Regions from separate parts of the Homo sapiens genome. Here region 2 is linked to region 1. Evidence: fine-mapped expression QTL. Tissue or cell type: blood mononuclear cells. Region 1 holds a variant in brackets; the other region holds the start of a gene. All regions are shown on one strand. Distances are from middle to middle.

The links. PIP is the estimated chance that this variant, and not a neighbour inherited with it, causes the effect.
Region 2: it holds the start of GIMAP6, and the variant in region 1 is fine-mapped to the expression of GIMAP6 in blood mononuclear cells (TOPMed, PIP 0.94).

The regions. Positions count from the first base shown.
Region 1 is chr7:150,684,364-150,687,286 of GRCh38, forward strand. It overlaps GIMAP2 (GTPase, IMAP family member 2), which reads left to right and starts at 1,343. Exons shown (of 3, transcript NM_015660.3): 1 at 1,343-1,422; 2 at 2,689-2,724. The coding sequence starts at 2,697. LOC124901774 (a long non-coding RNA gene) reads right to left here. Exons shown (of 4, transcript XR_007060589.1): 2 at 1,759-1,813. RefSeq lists an enhancer at 1,218-1,417. The variant C/T (reference allele first, on the strand shown) is at 1,273.
Region 2 is chr7:150,630,812-150,633,734 of GRCh38, forward strand. GIMAP6 (GTPase, IMAP family member 6) reads right to left here and starts at 1,574. Exons shown (of 3, transcript NM_024711.6): 1 at 1,358-1,574. RefSeq lists enhancers at 985-1,064, 1,335-1,424, 1,435-1,524.

The sequences.
Region 1 (2,923 bases):
TCTCAGTCTCACTTCTCCCTGCCTAATCCTGGGTTCTTCCCTTCTCCCTCTAGCACATTTCCTGAGAAGATTCCCTAATAAACTTCCTTCATCCATTTTATCTTCATCTCAACAGTCTGTATTCCTAGGAACCCAAACCTTTGCACATGTACATGTACATATCACTTATGTTAGGAAACGCAGTGATGTAATTTGCAATATTAGTAGGTCAAAAGGAAAAAGACATGGAATTATATCAGTCAACGTCAAAATAAAATTTTCTAAATTTATACCACAGATAAAAGACTTTAATGAAATAGGACTAAGCAAAGTATAGCCACACTGATTTTAAAATAAACTAATTAATTTCCAATAACCAACATCAATATTAATGATAAGATATTAGGTGCCCTACAGGTAAATAAATAATAAAAGCACATTAACTCACTTTTGAAAAGGTAGCAAGCAATTGTAATTATACAAGAGAAAGCAACATAAGATATTTTTGGAAACAAGGAGGGAAAATTATCACTATTTGCAACTGAGTCTATGATAAACCTGGAAACTCCAAGACAATCAAAAGGAAATGTTTTAAATGCTAGGATGTGGAGAAATAAGAACACTTTTACACTGTTGGTGGGACCGTAAACTAGTTCAACCATTGTGGAAGTCAGTGTGGCGATTCCTCAGGCATCTTGAACTAGAAATACCATTTGACCCAGCCAACACTCCAGAGTATTACTATAGACATTTCCTAGACAATTTCTCCCCACAGGGAGGTTCTCTGAAATTACAGAGCTGGACAGGGAAGAAAGGCCCAGAATCCTAGAAGCCATGAATGAGTTATGTAAAAATGTTTTGATGGTTAATGATCCTTACAATCAGACTCAGACAAAAATGTCCCCTCTCAGGTTCCCCTTTCTGTGCCCTTCTTCCCCTGGGCAGTGCCTATCAGAGGCTCCTCTTCTCTCCCAGTGGCATCTGCTTTAGAACAATCCCTGCTGCTGGTGTCAATGAGGTTTAAGCCCTTCTCAGGGGGCCATTTGCATCTAGACAAACTTCTAACTGTTGGGACATATCCCAGCTGGGAAGGACTGAAATCCACCAACTTCCTTGGCATTCATGCCTTTCTTTCCAGTCCAGATGAAATCATTAAAACACTCTTTTTTCACTTTTGAGAAGAAGAGACAGTTGGCCCACATGACAGCAAATAACTACTGATTAACTTTCCATTTAAACTGTTTATTTTGCATAATGGCATGAAAGAGAATTTCAAACACAGGCACGTGGTGG[C/T]GTTCATTAGCAGTCAGGAAGCTCAGGAAGATTCAAGAGAGGAAGAAGACCGACTGGAGTCTCGGTTTTACTTTCTTTTTCTCTTGGAGCTGAGCTATAAGACAACAGGACTGAACAGGGAGCCAACTGTTTCTTTGAACAGTAAATCAGGTAAGCCCAGATTTACGAAAAGTTCTGCAGTGTTGATTTCTAGGTCCCAAGCCATGCACAAACATTTTCATTTTTCTTAGAACAAATTTGTCCTATTTTAAGAGAAGCAATTTAGAGTGACTGCCTTTTCCTTAAGTGGAGCCAGTTTACAGGAAACCGATGTAATTTACTTTACACATTACTGGCAAAGAAAGAATTTCCATAGTATAAAGTCAATAAAAAGTGCTAACTGGGAAGAATTTGGGCATTAATCGGTGGCTTTCAGTTTTCTGTGCTTGTACGCTTGGTCTATGCCTGCCAGATTTAAGCAAGAGAAACTAGCTGATGAAAACGTACCGATATTTCTCACTCCATAGTAGTTCCTACATTGCAAGGGCTTCATAACCAGGGGCTGTTGGGGAATGAGAAAAATTCAAGCCATTAATGGATCAAGTGAAGTGTATTTCCAGCTTAAAGGACTGCACGGTTTCCCAGAGTCATAATCTTCATTCACTGAGTCTCTCAGCAAAGACTCAACATGAGGGAGGAGGTTTGGAGAGAGTAGAGGAGGGAAGGAGGCAAGGTGGGAAAAGAAAGAGAGGGAAAGGGAGGACTGAGCCTAAGGTGTAAGGGAAGGCACACCTACAGAGAAAGCTGACAGAAGCGAAGAGTGTGCAGGCAAAACAAAAACAGAAGGGAGCCGGGCTGATCTGTGAGAGGACGGGAGGAAGAAAGCGAGAGAGAGCTGGGCATGAGGCTTACAAATGAAACCCACTTCTCAGCCCCTCAGCAAGTGATTCCAGTTCTCTGTAAAGTAGGAAGTCATTCCTTTCCCACCCACCTTGTCCCTTATGAGTAGACAAATGAAACATGGTTGTTTAGAAATATAAGGATCTTGGCCTAGTGTGATGGCTCACGCTTTTAATTCCAGAACTTTGGGAGGCCGAGGCTGGTGGATCATTTGAGGTCAGGAGTTTGAGACCAGCCTGGCCAACATGGTGAAACCCTGTCTCTACTAAAACTACAAAAATTAGATGGGCATGGTGGTGCACACCCATAATCCCAGCTACTCGGGAGGCTGAGGCAGGAGAATCACTTGAACCCAGGATGTGGAGGTTGCAGTGAGCCGAGATCGCACCACTGCACTCCAGCCTGGGTGACAGAGTGAAACTGTGTCTCAAAAAAAAAAAAAAAAAAAAGAAAGAAAGAAAAAGAAAAGAAAAGAAATATAAGAATTTTTCATGATTTAGAACTGAAAAATAAGTTTCTTGTCTCTCTGTTTCTCAGGAACACCAATGGACCAAAATGAACACAGTCACTGGGGTAAGAAGGTGACTTCACGTGTGTGTGTGTGTGTGTGTGTGTGTGTGTGTGTGTGTGTGTGTGTGTGTTTGGCTCTTCTGATGATGTTGGGGCAAAATAAACAAGGGTGAAGGATCTTATTCTAACTCCCACAGCTACCACCACCAGCAGCTGAAAATTGTGGGGTTTTGTTTTCTTTGTTTGTTTGTTTGTTTGTTTG
Region 2 (2,923 bases), 54 kb before region 1:
TGTGAATGTCTCTTCCCCTATTAAGGTCTCAACATACTTCATAACATTTTTTAGAGCAATTCTTAGTCCTTTTTGCAAATTAGGGCCACATCATTCCCAACCAGGAACTCCTGTCCCCTTTCCCATGACAGCAATGTGTCCTGGCTTCATAGACTAACACAGTTCTCTGTGCCAAGATCCCATAAGGTTCTCTCTGCTGGATTTTCTCTGTGGGACTGAGGAGGAAGTTGCATGGTCCATGACTGTTTTTCCAGATCATGTAGGACATTCACAACCAGATGAAACAGATCCAGATGAAGGGTCTGGGGTGTGGGGAAACCTAAGTCCAGGGGAACCTGATAGACATGTTTTTCTCATTGCCACATTGTTAGATGTTTGTTCTATTCTGTTCACCTGGCAAACACTCCAGTCCTCCCCAGATCCCAGAAGTATATATGCGGATATTGCTTTATGATTGGTAAAGATCAATTTTGCAGTGCTGGGCTGGGCATGGAGGGAGTCCAGGAAGGTCTGTTGACTTTCTAGGAAGAAAGAAGAAGCAGGCCAGGCGGACAGCCTTACTCAGACCTGAACAGCCAGATTCTGGAAGGAGTACAATATTTCACCTACCAAAGGGAGTTAGTTCTTCCTAACTGGTGGCCTCTCAATCTCTTTGTCCCTGGCTTCCTTACATCCCTGGTGGAAATTGAGGCAGCACTTTACCAATGTAATCTCATTCCTCCTTTAGAGAGAACGGGCAGGCAGCTTAACAGGAAACAACAGCCGGGTGGGACTAGGCTGTGGCATGCAGGAACCTGCACTGTGCCTTCGCAGGGTTCGGGGAATGGGTCTGCACGCAAGGCACCTCCCTGCCTCCTCCTAGACCCTCCCCGGAATGGCACCTCCCATGTTGGCCACAGTGTGCATTGTCTCCAACACAGAAGATGGAACAGATAGTACCATCCTTGTCATATTGCTCTGGAAGAAAGCAAAACTCAGAGAAGCATCTTGCCAAATATTAAACAGTGACTTTGTCACAAGGCAAAAAGTTCTCCAGACGTGTTGGTCACAGCTCTTTTTATCACATTACAAACCTGCACACACCACAGCACACACAAATACACAACACACACACATACACAAAACACATGTACCACTCACACACATGCAGGTGAACACACAAACACATACACAAACACAAATATACATACACAACACACACACAACACTCACATACACACACAACACAAACATCACACACACAAACATCACTCACACACATTCATGTTAACACATACAAACATGTAAACACACATGTACAACACAAACACCCACACATACACATCCAAATATGACACGCACAAATACTCAGACTTACCTCTGCACCAGCTCACAGGCAAGAGAAAGGACCACGTTTCTGGTCTCCCGGCCACGCACTCTCACGGAGGAGGCAGAGAAAAGCTTCCACAGTGTATGAACACAAGGAGGACAAGGCCGATGTTTGCTTATATTTTCAGCAAAATGTTTTCAGAGAGCTGGGCTGGAGACCTGCCCTTGAAAGAGCAGTGTCCGCTGGAGATGGAGGAACAGGAAGTGGGTAGGAGCACCGGCCTTCCTGAGTCAGAAGAGTCTGCTGTTGCACTTTGCAGCCTCGGAAGTAGAAAAAGGGAGGATACCAGTGGTGGGATTATTTTTATCCTGAGCCAGGATAACTAGAACTCAGAGCTTAAAAAGAGGCAGATGCCTCAGAAAGATTTGTGTCAGGAGGAGTGACTTTCCCTGATCTCTCTTTTCTGAACCCCACCTCTTCCCCAGGGAACTTCTATGCCTCAGTATTGGGGCAAACAGTCATTGTCTCCTTTCTTCCCCAACCTCTCCTTCCTTTAATAGTTTCTCTCAGGACAAGGTCTGACACTCATTACCTCTAAGGCATGAATCATTGGTAATTACAATTGTTACAGCTTCTAGAAGATCTGCACTATAAGAAAAGGGAAAATACAAAAGAATGTCTAAAATGTAGGATTAAAGAGAGCACTTGTTATGGGGGAAGAACAATATTTTAAACACAGGCCAAGGGAGAAAACACCTCAGCATCCTCAAAAACATGTTTTCTAGGACTTTACTGACAGATCTGATAACTGTGGCTAAAGGGAAGCCATTGAAGGAAGAAATTCAGAACATAGGAGCATAGGTGATGATATTGTTACCACATGATTTTAAAATGTTAAGATTCCCTAAAAAAATTCCACTCAATCTACTATAATAGTTCTAATTTTCTTTGGTTCTGTTCTGGTTGATAATCATGGTGTATTTATTAAAATTGTTACATAGTATGTGTGTGTGTACATATATATATCTTTTAATGTTCTACTTAAATTATTCTGTAAATACCCTGACACAATTAATTTTTTTTTTTTGAGACAGAATGTCATCCTGTCACCCAGGCTGGAGTGCAGTGGTGTGATCTCAGTTCACTGCAACCTCATCCTCCCAGGTTCAAGCGATTCTCATGCCTCAGCCTCCCAAATAGCTGGAATTACAGGCGTCCGCACACCCGGCTAATATTTTGTATTTTTAATACAGACGGGGTTTTACCATGTTGGCCAGGTTGGTCTCAAACTCCTGACCTCAAGTTATCTGCCCACCTCGGCCTCCCAGAGTGTTGGGATTATGGGCGTGAGCCACCGCGCCTGGTGTAACATGATTAATTCTTTTTTTTTTTTTTTTCTCGAGACGGAGTCTCGCTCTGTCGCCCAGGTTGGAGTGCAGTGGTGCGGTCTTGGCTCACTGCAAGTTCCACCTCCTGGGTTCACGCCATTCTCCTGCCTCAGCCTCCTGAGTAGCTGGGACTCCAGGTGCCCACCACCACGCCCAGCTAATTTTTTGTATTTTTAGTAGAGATGGGGTTTCACTGTGTTAGCCAGGATGGTCTCGATCACCTGAC